Linked DNA regions of Homo sapiens. The protein of the gene in region 1 interacts with the protein of each later gene in a biochemical or structural test. Each region holds a gene or a part of one and is shown on either strand. Other genes may lie near its edges.

The links. Proteins that work in one complex are often made in the same cells at the same time.
Region 2: the proteins of FLOT1 (region 1) and ARG1 form a complex in vitro, tested with the Homo sapiens proteins (one study listed by IntAct).
Region 3: the proteins of FLOT1 (region 1) and AURKB form a complex in vitro, tested with the Homo sapiens proteins (one study listed by BioGRID).
Region 4: the proteins of FLOT1 (region 1) and SORBS1 form a complex in vitro, tested with the Homo sapiens proteins (2 studies listed by BioGRID).

What each region holds. Positions count from the first base shown.
Region 1 is NC_000006.12:30,727,209-30,730,537, forward strand, and holds the end of FLOT1 (flotillin-1), read right to left. Parts: coding exon 3,220-3,329; intron 2,979-3,219; coding exon 2,814-2,978; intron 938-2,813; coding exon 908-937; 3' UTR 501-907; downstream 1-500. UniProt on the Homo sapiens protein: May act as a scaffolding protein within caveolar membranes, functionally participating in formation of caveolae or caveolae-like vesicles.
Region 2 is NC_000006.12:131,575,804-131,579,892, reverse strand, and holds part of ARG1 (arginase-1), read right to left. Parts: intron 3,231-4,089; coding exon 3,158-3,230; intron 807-3,157; coding exon of another isoform or gene 783-806; coding exon 608-782; intron 1-607. UniProt on the Homo sapiens protein: Key element of the urea cycle converting L-arginine to urea and L-ornithine, which is further metabolized into metabolites proline and polyamides that drive collagen synthesis and bioenergetic pathways critical for cell proliferation, respectively; the urea cycle takes place primarily in the liver and, to a lesser extent, in the kidneys.
Region 3 is NC_000017.11:8,204,067-8,207,997, forward strand, and holds the end of AURKB (aurora kinase B), read right to left. Parts: intron 3,836-3,931; exon of another isoform or gene 3,775-3,835; coding exon 3,672-3,774; intron 3,560-3,671; coding exon 3,505-3,559; intron 3,305-3,504; coding exon of another isoform or gene 3,302-3,304; coding exon 3,110-3,301; intron 2,869-3,109; coding exon of another isoform or gene 2,823-2,868; coding exon 2,684-2,822; coding exon of another isoform or gene 2,674-2,683; intron 2,574-2,673; coding exon 2,425-2,573; intron 1,325-2,424; coding exon 1,150-1,324; intron 979-1,149; coding exon 805-978; 3' UTR 668-804; downstream 1-667. UniProt on the Homo sapiens protein: Serine/threonine-protein kinase component of the chromosomal passenger complex (CPC), a complex that acts as a key regulator of mitosis.
Region 4 is NC_000010.11:95,337,705-95,341,793, forward strand, and holds part of SORBS1 (sorbin and SH3 domain-containing protein 1), read right to left. Parts: intron 3,975-4,089; coding exon 3,860-3,974; intron 3,707-3,859; coding exon 3,581-3,706; intron 1,624-3,580; coding exon 1,429-1,623; intron 1-1,428. UniProt on the Homo sapiens protein: Plays a role in tyrosine phosphorylation of CBL by linking CBL to the insulin receptor. Required for insulin-stimulated glucose transport. Involved in formation of actin stress fibers and focal adhesions.

The sequences.
Region 1 (3,329 bases):
AAGCTACATTCTAGCATTCATTTTCTTTCTAATAGAGCCAGGATCTTGCTTTGTCACCCAGGCTGGAATGCAGTGGTGTGATCATGGCTCACTACAGCCTTAGACTCCTGAGCTCAAGTGATCCTCCCACCTTAGCCTCCCAAGTAGCTAGGACTATAGGCAAGAGTCACCATACCTGAGTCTAGCATTCATTTTTTTTCTCTTTTTTTTTGAAACAGTCTCACTCTGTCACCTAGGCTAGAGTGCAGTGGTGCGATCTTGGCTCACTGCAACCTCTGCTTCCCAGGTTCAAGTAATTCTCCTGCCTCAGCCTCCCAAGTAGCTGGGACTACTACTTGGCATGTTTCACCCTGCCTGGCTAATTTTTGTATTTTTGGTAGAGACAAGGTTTCGTCATGTTGGCCAGGCTGGTCTTGAACTCCTGACCTCAGATGATCTGCCTGCCTTGGCCTCCCAAAGTGCTGGGATTACAGGCATGAGCCACTGTGCCGGGCCAAGCATTAATTTCCAGTTGCTTCTGTTTTATTAGTACTTACTTACAGCAATTTATTTGGGTAGCAAAGTTGAAAACCTCCAGCCCATCCCTCAGTCTTGGTCAGGAAAATATTCTAGACAACAGGCTCAAACAGTCTGATTTAATTAGGAAGTTAAATAAGTTGAGGTGGGGTGGAGTGGGATCATCAGAAGGCTGACATGGGACCGCTGGAGTTGGCAATCATAGCAGTGTGAGGTTGGCAAGGGGAGCAACCCCCTTCAAGACAAGGCACAAACTATTTGGCAAGGAGAGATGAGGGGTGGGACCTCACTGTCAATGGACATGCTCAGGGAGGCCAGTGGGTTACATGCAACAGGAGGATCATTCAGGCAACTTCAGCTATGAGGCTGGGCATCTGTGAGGGCTGAAGGCTCAGGCTGTTCTCAAAGGCTTGTGATTCACCTGGCAAAAAGACAACAGTAGATGACACTTGGGAACATTCGGGAGGCTGAGGCCCCTACTCTCCCGGGCCCCAGTTTAGACGAATGGGCTATAGGCAGAACACACACGGCCAGGGTTCTTTCTGGTGCCCTACCACCTGTTTCCCCAAACAAAGACATCAGGACCCACATACAATAAATCACTGAAGAGAGGAGAGGGGGCAGAGCCTTGTTTGCACACTCTCCTTAGCTCTGAATATTCTACTGCAGGCCTCCAGGAGGCTCCAAGGAACCCAGCTTGAAGGTCATTGGTATGATCCAGTGCTTTTATTTACATACGCTTTTTTTTTTTCTTTTTTTTTTTGAGACGGAATCTCACTCTATCACCCAGGCTAGAATGCAGTGGTGCGATCTTGGCTTACTGCAGCCTCCGCCTCCTGAGTTCAAGTGATTCTCCTGCCTCAGCCTCCCGAGTAGCTGGGATTACAGGTATGCGCCACCATACCCAGCTAATTTTTGTATTTTTGGTAGAGATGGGGTATCACCATGTTGGCCAGGGTGATCTCAAACTTCTGACCTCAGCTGATCGTCCACCCTGGCCTCCCAAAGTTCTGGGATTACAAGTGTGAGCCACAGCACCCAGCCCGAATATGCATTTCTTTCTCTTTTTTTTTTTGAGACAGAGTCTTGCTCTGTTGCCTAGGATGGAGTGCAGTGGTGCTATCTCGGCTCACTGCAAGCTCTGCCTCCCAGGTTCACACCATTCTCCTGCCTCAGCCTCCCCAGCAGCTGGGACTACAGGCACACACCGCCACGCCCGGCTGTTTTGTATTTTTAGTAGAGACGGGGTTTCACTGTGTTAGCCAGGATGGTCTCAATCTCCTGACCTCGTGATCCGCCCGCCTCAGCCTCCCAAAGTGCTGGGATTACAGGCATGAGCTACCGCGCCTGGAATTTTTTTTTTTTTTTGAGATAGAGTCTTATTCTGTCACCCAGGCTGGAGTGCAGTGGTGTGATCTCAGCTCACTGCAACCTTCGGCTCCTGGGTTCCAGCAATTCTCCTGCCTCAGCTTCCCGAGTAGCTGAGATTACAGGCATGCACCACCAAGCCTGGCTAATTTTTTTTTGTATTTTTAGTAAAGATGGTGTTTCACCATGTTGGCCAGGCTGGTCTCCAACTCCTAACCTCAGGTGATCTGCCTGCCTCAGCCTCCCAAAGTGCTGGGATTACAGGCGTAAGCCACTGCACCTGGCCCCATTTCTTTAACATACACATAATGCTTACTATATACCAGGCACTATTCTAAACACTGCAAATATTTGCTCGAGCCCCTCAACAATTCAACAGGGTAGTTTCTAATTATTAACCCAATTTTAAGATGAGGAAACAGGTATAGAGAGGTTGATTACTTGTCCAAGATTACAGCTAGCAGGCATTGTAGCTAGGATTCGCAACAAAACAGTGGTTCCAGAGCCTGTTTGCTGACTTCTACCATGATCTACAGGTGAATTAACTGGGGCGCTGAGAAAAGCAGTGATATGCCCTAGAATTAATTAACTGTCAATAGGCTGCAACTAGTTCCCTATACTAGTGGGGTGACCACAAGCACAGGTTGCAGAGACAGTCGACCTGGATTTCACTCCAGCTGCACTAGCAGAATGAGTAGGAACATGCTGGATGTTGAGTTTCTGGACTTTGTAAAATCCTATATACCCTAATGGTAGTTTGATTTAAAACAACTCATTTATGTAGAAGCTTAGCACTGTGTCTGGCACACAGAAAGTGATTAATAAACATCAATGACTCCCAGGCCTGGATGCTGGTTAAATGCTAGGCATACTGTGTCACACAACACAGGAACCTAGCAATTCTCCTCAGCTCCAACCTGAGACCTCACCTGGGAGATGCTCACGCCTGTGAGTCTTTCCACACTCTCTGGCAGGCGAGTTAGAATGTCCAGTACTTCCCCAGTCACTTTGGCTGCCCCCATGGTCCCACTGCCGCTGGACACCAGTGTGATCTTATTGGCTGAAGTCAAGGGACCACTGATCTCCTCTGCCACCTGGCAGGAGAGAGACACCCACTCAGTGCCCATGATCTGACCACATTCCTCATAAAACAACTTACTCTGGGTTTTAAGGTCCTCGTTCCACTGATCATCCTTCCTCACTTTGGTCACTAATAATTCCCACCCCTAATTTAGAGTCCCCCTAGGCTGTTTCTCCCTAAGCCCCTCACTACACCCCACCCCTTAGTCCCTGGTTCTATTTCCTCCTTTCTTGGTGCCCACATGACCTCCAGACCTGGGGCAGCTTCTCTAGCAGCATGTCCAGCTGAGCAGCCTCTTGGTACAGCTGGAAGGCTTCTGCCTTCTTGGCCATCTGCTCAGCCTCGGCTCGGGCTCGGGCCCCTA
Region 2 (4,089 bases), about 100 Mb from region 1:
CAACATAGACATCTGTCTCTCTCTCTCTCTCTCTCACACACACACATACACACACACACACACGTTAAACAAAGTCATCATGTACAAGGAAAAAAAAGATGCCATGAAAGAAATGTGCCAGATTTTCAATTCTGGTTGAAATGGTTGCTAGAGAAGTACAATTACCACATTTTTTTTCTTGTGTGTGTGTGTCTGATGCTTTCAAAAATGTTATGATCATTACTTTTATAATGAAAAACACATGCTTTGAAATTGTTGACCTATATGAGTTGTATATATTATCGGCAATTAAGAACAAATAAGCTATGAATTGCCTCACATACTTATTTAGAAATGTAAGCTTGTGATGAATATTTAGATGAAATCCATTCATATTTCATACATTTTCTGCTGTACTAGGTCAAAATACAGATATTGTAAGACTTCAAATTGAGCGAAGTCTGTTTCTATAATAAAAGTAACCTATAAAATTTTTTTAAAGGCAGAAAATTTGATATAAAATATAGGTCAATGCTTTTCTGTCTATATTTCTAAATTTTCTCTCTTCTTATGGCCTTGGTTACTTCCTTTGTGCCAGATTCCCATAGACACAGTTATTCAACAAGACCTGTGGTCTCCGCCCAGCACCAGGCTGATTCTTCCGTTCTTCTTGACTTCTGCCACCTTGCCAGCCAGCTGCTCGCTTGCTTTTCCCACAGACCTTGGATTCTTCACAATTTGAAAGGGACTGTCATTAGGGATGTCAGCAAAGGGCAGGTCCCCATAATCCTTCACATCACACTCTAAAATTAAAAAGTTTTGAGTTACTAAATTAAAAAGTAGATTATAAATCAGTCTGTGTAGGATGATCTCAATTGTATAAAATAGGCATATATTCACAAGTATAAGCAAAGGAAAAACCTGAAAGGTCTGTAAATCTTGGGAAGGTAGACCCATGTCTGCTTTTGCTTGACGTCATGTTACCAGTATCACACACTGGTGCGGCTGTATACTGGGCTCTCAGTGAACACTTCTTGAATCCATCCAGTTAAACTAGACACCAAAATGTAACAGTGATAATCTTCTGGTTTGGGCTTAATAGGGAATGCCACTGTCTCTGTCTCTGTCTCTCTGTCTCTCTCTGCTTATGTGCTTTTTACCTTTCTATAGTAAGCATGCTTCATTTTGATAATAATTAAATACATATATATCGGTATATATATGTATTCTCAGAAAATTTAGAAAGCACTGGTGTATTTTCATCTGGAGATACACACACACACAGACACACAAAGTATCCATTGAACCTGCCTCATAGTGGTATTATCATAAATAAATAAGAATATGTGAATATGTACTTAGCACTGAGCCTAACACTTTGGAAGCTTCGGAAATAAAGCTTTTTAGTTATTCTTTTTAGTAAGGAAAAATTGCAGGTAACCCCAAATTCCTAAGGACTGGGTGTGCTCCCTAAAAGGCCTTGAATTAGGCTTGAAAAGTAGAGAGTGTCATGTAAAACTGTGATTCAGTTCGGTGTTCTGAACTAATTGGCCATTAAATATGGTATTTGTTACATGTCTGTGTGAATCTGATTTAGTAACGCCTCCAAGAAATTTCACCTGATACAACACGTGACCAAATTATGCTTGTCAGTTAAGGGACAAGTCCATTACCCAAGCATTCTGTTCTCTACTGGGTGTCTGTATTTGTCTTTTTTTTTTTTTTTTAAAGATTTACGAAGTGTAATTCTTGTTCACTAAAACTCACTAATTTTAACTGTGCGGGTCAATGAGTTTGAAAAATTCCATCCTGCCCCTTTAGAGGTAATTCTTGCCCCCAACCCCAGGAACTGCTGATCTGCTTTCTTTTGCTATGCTTTTGTCTTTCCAGAATGTCGTATCAGTGGAATCATACATGTAGTCTTTCTTGTCTTATCATGCTGCTTTTGAGATCTACCATGTTTTTGCCTGTGTTTGCGGTCCATTCCTTTTTCTTTTTTTTTTTTTTTTGGAGATGGAGTCTCGCTCTGTCGCCCAGGTTGGGGTGCAGTGGCGCAATCTCAGCTCACTGCAACCTCTGCCTCCGGGTTCAAGCCATTCTCCTGCCTCAGCCTCCCAAGTAGCTGGGACTACAGGCTCATGCCACCACGCCCAGCTATTTTTTTTTGTATTTTTACTAGAGAAGGGGTTTCACTGTGTTGCCCAGGCTGGTCTTGAACTCCTGAGCTCAGACAGTCCACCCACCTTGGCTTCCCAAAGTGATAGGATTACAGGCCTCAGCCACCGTGCCCGACCAGTCCATTCCTTTTTATTGTTGAATACTATCTCGTTGCATGGATGTGACACTTTTTGTTTAACCATCTACCAGTTGATGGGCATTTTGCTGTTTCCATTTTTTGGTTATTATAAATATGGCTGCCCCCAAACATTCAAGCACAAATCTCTTACCCAAGAGAAATGAAAACATATCCACACAAAGACTTGTACTTGAATGTTTGTAGTTGTACTTCTCTGCACCCAGGAGTAGAACTGCTGGGTCAAAATGTAAATATATGTTTACCTGAGAAACTGCCCACCTACTTTCAAAGTGGCTGTATCATTTGCATTCCCATCAGAAATATATGAGGGTTCCAGTTTCTCCACATCCTGACCAACACTTTATCAGAATCTTATATGTAAAGGTAACAGAAAATTGAGCCCATACTTTAAAAATATACGTAAATTTGCATTTGCATGCTTATGTATATGTATGTATATATACACACTGCGCCCACACTAGGCGCTGTTGTTATTATCATTATTACTGTTTTATTTTATTTTATTTCACAAATAGGGGTCCTCTTGCTAGTAGCATACTTCCTGCTGCACCTTGCCTTCCATTTGCTGTTCCCCCGGCTCCCCTACCATCCACCCCAACCCCCGTTCTTGCACACACAATTTATCTTATACTGTAGTTTGGCTGGAAAGACAAAATATCTGAGTGAGGATGTACATCCAGCAATGTTTCCTGAGCATTCTCCCCATGCCCTGCTGCTTTTGTAGGATGTGTTTCTCGGGTTGTAACCAGTACCGCAATTCTGATGTAAATATTCCAGACACACTCCAGGTTCACAGGGGCCTGCTCTTTCCTTCAGAGTGGGGAGGAAATCAGGCTGATCATTTTTCAACTTAAAAATTACCTTGTTCTTTAAGTTTCTCAAGCAGACCAGCCTTTCTCAATACTGTAGGGCCTTCTTCCACCCCTCCTCGTGGCTGAACAATTAAAAAATAAAGTACTTCAGACATTATCATGACCATCAGATGCTCACAGCAGGAACCCTTTTCATTATTTAATCAGTTGAACTGTAACTATCATTTTTTGAGCTCCTACAGAGCCAGGAATTTACATCATCTCTTTTAATCTTCACAGCAAGGTAGACTGAATGACTTTTATGCCAAATAGAAAGAACTAGAATCACAAAGGTTATATGGTTTTCAGACTGGCACACAGCTAATAAGTGGCAGAGCCTATGTTCATATTCAGGTCTTTGGATTCCAAAACCTACATCCCCTCTTCCCGTCAAACCATGTTATCAACACAGTGAACAAGTAGTTTGTGCAAAAGCAGTCTGGTAGATGAGATCCAATAATGAAAAGGCTTTTGACTTTGAGTCCCTCATAAGCTGATAGGAGATATGGGCATTTAACTCCAGTTTCAATACATAGCTGCTTCAGTGATGATATAAAATGTCCTAGTAACAAAAACAGGATGCCCTTAACACTGTTGGGGACAGGGTGTGTCAGTAAAGGCTGCAAGAAATAAATGCTGTTTAAGCTGAGTCTTGCGACATGAGTAGGTAGTTAGGAAAACAAGACAGAGTGATGGAGAAACTCTGCAAACCAAGGGAACGATTGGGCAAAAGCATCGAAAGAGTGTGACATGAAAGAGACCTACGTGCATGTACTCACATAAGTAAGCTAGAGCTCTTGGGGAGAAAGCAGGCAACAGAAAAAGTCATCATCTGGGAGCTGAAAACTACAAACAAAGACCAACCCAGTAATTTCAAGTTTTGGCCTGCTTAACAGTATGATGGGAAGTTCTACCCTTGCCGTTTTGACATTAGGGAAACTA
Region 3 (3,931 bases), on another chromosome or scaffold:
CTCTGAAAGTGCAGGGATTACAGGCATGAGTCACTGCGCCCAGACTTAACTGTTTTTTTGTTTTTGTTTTTTTTTTTAAAGACTCTGAGTAAACTATGAGTAGAATAGGCCCTGTTTAACCTGATAAAGGGTATCTATCAAAAACCTACAGCAAGCATCATGCATAACAGTGTAACCTCATGTCAGGAACAAGACAGAATCACTGCTGCTTCTATTGGCTCCTGTACTAGATCCTGACCAGAGCAGTGAAATAATCAAAGACAGCTTCTAGGGTACAGAACTGTTTAGTTGCTCCTACGTTGGCAAAGGGGCAGAGAATGAAACAGAAAAGGAAAAACTAGAAGTTGGACAACCAAGAGAGAGGTGAAAGAAGGTGGCCAGAGATGGCTGGTGTTCCAATGTAGCAATGGGGAGCCAGGGCCCCCAGTGCCCCTGGGCTGTGGGAGTCTGAGCAACGGAAAGAATAGACAGTGAGGGTAGAGGTGGAAGTGGGGGTAGGGGTTGGGGTGGCTGGGAGCTGACCAGGTGGGTGTCAGAGCTGAGAGGGTAGGGTGTTACCAGGGATAGCAAAGTAATGCTCATCCCGGCTCCTCAGGGTGAGCCAGCTCTCCTTCTAGGGAACAGCTTCCTCCACAGCAAAGCCTCCACCTAGAAACATCTACACTCATGAGTACAAAAAGCTTCAGCCTTTATTAAACAAAGGAGGAGGTAGAAAACAGATAAGGGAACAGTTAGGGATCCCTTCTTTCCCCTATACATACACAGACATACAAACACACGCACCCGAGTGAATGACAGGGACCATCAGGCGACAGATTGAAGGGCAGAGGGAGGCAGCACCCTCCGAGAGTTGGCCCGGACCCAAGGGTGGGCTGAGACCTGGGCCAGGGGCAGCCGTTCCGAGGGGTTATGCCTGAGCAGTTTGGAGATGAGGTCCTGGGCTCCCATGGGCACGGAAGCGGGGAACTTTAGGTCCACCTGCAGGTGTGAAGAGATGGAAGGGCTGCATTAGTTTCACCCTGGCTACATCTTCCTTGACTACCCATTCTGTTTGGAGTTACTTAGGGCCATGCAAATACACTCTGCCCACCCCCAGCCCCCCAGCTCCTGGCTTCAGCAGCTGGCACGAAGCCCAGGCCGCCCTCCCACCTTGACGATGCGGCGATAGGTCTCGTTGTGTGATGCACTCTCAAAGGGTGGGTTCCCCACCAGCAGCTCATAGCAAAGCACTCCAATGCACCACAGATCCACCTTCTCATTGTGCATGCGCCCCTCAATCATCTCTGGGGGCAGGTAGTCCAGGGTGCCACACATTGTCTTCCTCCTGGGAGGGATAAGGGGCGTGGGCAGGGGTCCTAGTGACATAGGAACTCTCCTTTCCCTGCTGCCTGACGGCTGGGAGCCAAAAGACCACGGGATGTACCAGGGGAGAGGTCCAGCCAGGCAAGGCCACTGGAGTGGGGGTGGGGTTGGGGTGATGATATATCCCAAAGCCCCAGAGGTGAGCCTGCACACAGCCCAGCAACTCCACACTGAAGGATATATCTTAATAAGATACCCTGATATGAGGGCAGTGTTCATTTGGAGTTCACTGGGGACATCTCTAATGCCCATCAGGCATGTTCTGGTTAAATAAATCAGCTACTATGTGATACTATGAAACCATTAAAAAGTGATGTGGGAGGAAAAAAGGCCACTGCTCCGGGCTTTTTTTGAGAGAGTCCAGGCTGGAGTGCAGTGGGGCGATCTTGGCTCACTGCAACCTCTGCCTCCCGGGTTCAAGTGATTCTCATGTCTCAGCCTCCCGAACAGCTGGGATTACAAGTGTGCACCACCATGTCTGCTTAATAAATTTTGTGTTTTTAGTAAAGATGGGGTTTCATCATGTTGGCCAGGCTGGTCCGCTGGTCTTGAACTCCTGGCCTCAAGTGATCCACCCGCCTTGGCCTCCCAAAGTGCTGGGACTGGTAGGCGTGAGCCACCGCGCCTGGCCAAAGTTTTACCATTGGCCCCTACAGGGATCAAACCTGCGACCTTGGGGTTATTAGCACCACACTCTAACCATTTTTTTTTTTTTTTTTTGAGACAGAGTCTCGATCTGTCACACAGGCTGGAGTGCAATGGCGTAATCTCGGCTCACTGCAACCTCCGCCTCCCAGGTTCAAACAATTCTCCTGCCTCAGCCTCCCCAGTAGCTGGGATTACTGGCGTCCGCCACCATGGCCGGCTAATTTTTGTATATTTAGTAGAGACAAGGTTTCATCATGTTGGCAAATCTAGTCTCGAACTCCTGACCTCAGGTGATCCGCCCTCCTCGGCCTCCCAAAGTGCTGGGATTACAGGTGTGAGCCACGGTGCACGGCCCCTGGAGAGGTTTTAATGGCCCAGCCTCACACCCAGGTCTGGCCTCCCAGGCCACCATACCTCAGGGAGGGCGCATGCACAGACCAGCCGAAGTCAGCAATCTTCAGCTCTCCCTTGAGCCCTAAGAGCAGATTTTCTGGCTTTATGTCTCTGTGAATCACCTTCTTCCCATGGCAGTACATTAGAGCATCTGCCAACTCCTCCATGATCTGGGAGGGGCAACGACAGGCAATCAGACAAGGATGGACCTCCAGCTACAAGCAGCACACCCTCAGCCTCGAGCCCCCTACTGGCGCCCCAGGTGCCCACCCGCCCGGACCGTGGCTGTTCGCTGCTCGTCAAATGTGCAGCTCTTCTGCAGCTCCTTGTAGAGCTCCCCGCGGGGGGCATACTCTAGAATCAAGTAGATCCTCCTCCGGTCATAAAAATAGTTGTAGAGACGCAGGATGTTGGGATGGCTGGGGGAAGAGACAGAGGAGGCCTCAGGCCAAAGGCATAAAAGAGCTGGAAAAGATGATAGGAGCAAACTGGGGTCAGACGTGGCCCAGGCCGGGGACACCAGGGCTGGGAGTGGTAAGGGGAAACTGGAGGCAGATTTCTGGATTCAAGGCTTGCCAGGACTAAGAGCTAAATGGGGCTCACTAGCCATAGCTACAGAGAAAGCAATCTGGATGAAGTGGGGCTGAATGAGGAGCTGGGGGTGAGGGAGCAGAGGGGCTTCGGCTCAGGGGGCATCAACCCATACTGCAGGTGGGCCTGGATTTCGATCTCTCTGCGCAGCTGATGCTCCACGCCCTCCTTCTCTATCTGGGACTTGAAGAGGACCTTGAGCGCCACGATGAAATGGCTTTTCTTCTCCCGAGCCAAGTACACGTTTCCAAACTTGCCTTTGCCCAGAGGACGCCCAATCTCAAAGTCATCAATTGTGAAGTGCCGCCTGCTTAGAAAGTGGAGGAAGGCAACTCAGAACCGGTTTTGGTTATTAAGAGGTTTGCTTTCTCTCTGCTTCCTCATCCCATCCTGTCCTCCGCCCCACTTGTCTTCATCCCTACTCCTCCCGTGCTTAGGTTTTATCTCCCCGACTTCCTGCCTGTTCATTGTCCCCTCACCCCCGTCCACCCCCAGGCTTGGGGCACTTACGTTAAGATGTCGGGTGTCCCACTGCTATTCTCCATCACCTTCTGGCCAGGGGCAGCTAAGGAGAGAACAGGTAGGTTGAATGCGAACAGGGATGACCTTCTCATCCCTAAACCCTCCCACAGACGGTCATCTCCCCAGCTCAGTCCTCTCCCCCTTGCGCCAGTTACCTGTGGGCTGGACATTGGAGCGGCTCATGAGGACAAGTGCAGATGGGGTGACAGGCTCTTTCCGGAGGACTCGCTGGGGCAGGGTGCTCAGGCCAGATGGAGCCTGAGAAGGAGCAGGGGGTAGCTCTGAGGGTGCCTTTGTCTGATGACCGGGGTGGAATGTGCTGCAAGCAGTATTTCAGCCCCTTGCTAAAGAGCCACCCACCCACCTACCCCCAATTCAAAGAGAAACACTGATGTGACAGTTTTGCTTCCCAGCC
Region 4 (4,089 bases), on another chromosome or scaffold:
CGGGGAAAGGTGGCCCCACACTGCCATGGCCCTTCCCTGGGGTTTTATTTTCTCTGGGAGCTCAGCAGAGTCTTCCAGAGAGGAGTATGAGTAGTGTACTAGTTTTGTTTTACAATCACTCTTGGCTAGTCAAGTGAAAAATGTAGTTGAGTTCCCTGCATCCTTACAAAGAAGAATGTCCCACTCCAGTCACACACTCTGTCCTATAAGACAACAGGATGCGGCTATCACTGTCCAGGAAGCCCTGGGTCAGCCCGTTTAATGCTTTCTGCCAAGAACCCTCTACTGGGGTCAGTGATGAGCAGGTGGCAGAGGAGGAAACAATTAGAGGACCAGACAAGAGGCACCATCTCAGGGTCAACCTGGGCCCCCAGGTCCTACTCTTGTTCCTCTGCCAACCTCCTTACAACATACATGGTGGTTTGTCCAGGCTCTTTCACAGGGATGTCACCCCCACCGTGTCACCCTGAACTCAAGGTTCTGACATTTTCTTGGCTTTGGGAAAGTGGGGATCAGTTAGGAATAGTTTATATTTCTAAACAAGTTTGTTCATAATTAATGTTTGGGAAAGCCAACATCTTATTACGCCTATAAACCTATATCCTTTCAGCCCACAGAGACTGAGATGCTGTAAGTTACTTGTTCCAATCACCTGGTTCCAGTGAATGCAAATAATACTTTGGATCTGGTCTATATGGCTGATGAGAAGGTGTAAGTCTCTCTTTCAGCCTTTGTCTTCTGCAGGTCAACTTTGGCCAAGATGACTGAGGACCGCATTTGGACCATGGGATTTATGACACAGTGGTGGTACCCACACCAACAGCTTCACCCAAGAGGGGCCAACTGATAAAGGCTCTTGTTTCTCTGTTTCTCTTTCCCTAGTCACCTTATTCCCAGAGCAATTACTTGACTATTCCTTTTCCCTTGAGATATATCTGCAACCAAGCACTGGAAAAGGCCATTTGTATGCATAAAGACAAAGTCCAGTGTACAGTCTGCTTTCCTGCAGTTTTTTTTTTTTTGAGATGGAGTCTCGCTCTGTCGTCCAGGCTGGAGTGCAGTGGCATGATCTCGGCTCACTGCAACCTCTGCCTCCCAGGTTTAAGCGATTCTCCTGCCTCAACCTCCCGAGTAGCTGGGACTACAGGCGCCCGCCACCACGCCTGGCTAATTTTTGAATTTTTGGTAGAGATGGGGTTTCACCATGTTGCCAGGCTGATCTTGAACTCCTGACCTCAGGTGATTCACCCGCCTCGGCCTCCCAAAGTGCTGGGATTACAGGCATGAGCCACCACACCCGGCCTCCTGCAGACAGTTTTTAATTGCAGTGCTCAAAAACCTCCCCAGAGAGGCTGTGTGCCATCAGCACTGTTGACTACAAAAATTCACATGCTGAGTATGAAAACCAGTGACGAGAAGCTTAGATACCTGTGGGCTTGCAGTGGCACTGCGACTTGGGGAGGAGGAGAAAGGCAGGTCCATGTAATCCACAGGGTTTTTCACCAGTGGTCGCTTGATCACATCCACGTAGGTGATGGGGAAGATGCCTTGTCGGGATGTCCCCGGGATCCTCCCTTCGTACCAGTTCTCATCTACCTGCCGGAGCAGTGTGATCCTCTCACCCTGGAAGACACAGCAAAGAGAGGGTCCTTGTCCTAGCATGCCTCTGCATGCCTGGGGCCTCTGCCTGCATGCTTCAATGTCCTGCATTGTTTATCACATCCTTAGCTCAGGAAAAACCTTCCCTGCTGAACCTGGAGGGAATTAACACCACTGGGATGAGGATGCTAATGGCAGAGGAGCTATCTTGATGCTGGGAAGTTCAGCTTGGTTCTTTAAGTATTTTAGTAAAGGAGAACATCAGATTTGTGTCCCTAAGCCAGGGAACAAATGTAGTGTTTTTGACTCATTTAATGTGAAACAGATACCCAATCTTCATTTCTAAGGCAAAGATTTTGGGGGGTTTCACTTTTTCTTTCTTTTGTAGCATTATAGATACTTATAATGTATCATTATAGAAAAATCAGAACACAAACGTAAAGCAGAAAACAATCATCACCCATCACATAGTCATTTGGGGATAAACACTTAATATTTGGCATATGGACTCCCCAGATTTACTTCTATGCATGTGAATTAAACCTGCACATATTTTTTCTTATAAAAATTGAGTATGAACTGTGTTTCCCTTTTCCAACTTGCTTTTTAAAAAATACTTAATAGCACATAGTAAACCTCCTTCTTTATCAAGAAATAGAATTCTAGATTTTTAATGGCATTGCATAGCTTAATGGACCACTGCAGGGTATTCTGTCGCACACACATATAATGATTTAATTACTGATCCCCTGCTGTTGGGCAACTGGGTTGCTTCCAGTGCTTTTTCTAACAATGTGCTCACTTCCCTCAAGCCTCAATAAAATCAGTAACTTAGTAACTTTAGCAAGCCAGAGAATTTTGCCATGTAGAGTGTTTGGATTCTGGAAAGAACAACTTCTCTGCACAATGTAATTATGTTCTGAATAAGCATGATGGTGATAATAATAATACTGGCATCTCCTGTTTACTAAGCACCAACAAGATACCATGTGTCATGCTGGGGGCTTCACATAAGTTGTTTCACCGAAGCCTCTTACAACCACCTAGGAGAGAGCCATCTATCTTCATTTTTTTTCTATAAGAAAATGGTGGCTTGGAAAAAGTATTTAACTCCCACATTCTGCGTAGTTGGTTTGTGCCTTTTGGGTTCAAAGCTTTTCAAACTTCTCCTGGTATCAATGGACCTGTTTTTTCCACTAGGTCACACCAATATATTGTAAAACCCAGTCCCCAACACAATGCATTATGACATCATTAGTTGGTAAGTGTTGGTTGAAAACAGCTTATAAAAGATGTCTAAGACTCCAGAAATACTATGTTTAATCAGTGAGCTCAATATAGTTAAACCCTGATATTAGCCTAGGGTTTATTTTAAAAATACCTTACCTCAGAAAATTCTCCAATTGCCCTTAATGCAATTCTTTTTTTTTTTTTCTTCAGTAGAGATGGGGCCTTGCTACGTTGCTCAGGCTGGTCTTGAACCCCTGGCCTTAAGCGAGCCTCCTGCCTTGGTTTCCCAAAGTGCTGGGATTACAGGCCTTAATGCAATTCTTTTTTTTTTTTTTGGAGACCTATTGCCCAGGCTGGAGTGCAGTGGAGCGATCTCAGCTCACTGCAACCTCTGTCTCCCAGGTTCAAATGATTCTCCTGCCTCAGCCTCCTGAATAGCTGGGATTACAGGAACCCACTACCATGCCCAGCTAATTTTTGTATTTTTAGTAGAGACGGGGTTTCACCATGTTGGCCAGGCTAGTCTCAAACGCCTGACCTCAAGTGATCTACCCACCTCGGCCTCCCAAAGTGCTGGGATTACAGGCATGAGCCACCGTGCCCAGCCCTTAATGCAATTATTGATTGGCATACTTCTCTTAAGGGTACAGACAGCACCCCCAGACTGGGGTGTGATAGCAACACCACGCTTCCCCACATAGCTGCGCCATCCAAGAGAGCCCCAAAGCAAGGCATGAGAAGTGCAGCTTACCTTTCTGAAGGACATTTCTACTTGTGTATCACCATTAAAGTTAAACTTAGCAATAGCTTCTCCATATTCCAAAACCTGCACTGGTGTCAACTTTTTGGGCTGTGCCTTCTCAGCAGGAGGAAGAAGCTGAGAAAGGGAAAGAGGTAAAAGAGAACAAGGGAAGAGAAGAAAGCAGGGAAACAAGAGGAAAAGGAGGAAACAAAACATAAGCATTTGGTAAATAAATGGTGCTTTGGGCACTGTCAGGCTTTTCCTTAGAAAGAAAAGAGGCTGCGGTACCTCGATGTAGGTGCGTGGGAAGATTCCCACCCGGCCGTGGTGTTCTCCTTCATACCAGTTCTGATCAATTTGCTTATAAATGTAAACAATATCTCCCTTCTGCAGAGGAAGCTCCCTGTTGACAGAAGGTCAACGGCATTTTAGCAGATGTTTCAATATGTGTAAGATTAAGACACTTCAGTTTTGTAGCAAAAGGAGACTTTTAAGTGGGGTCAAAGGGTACAAATTCC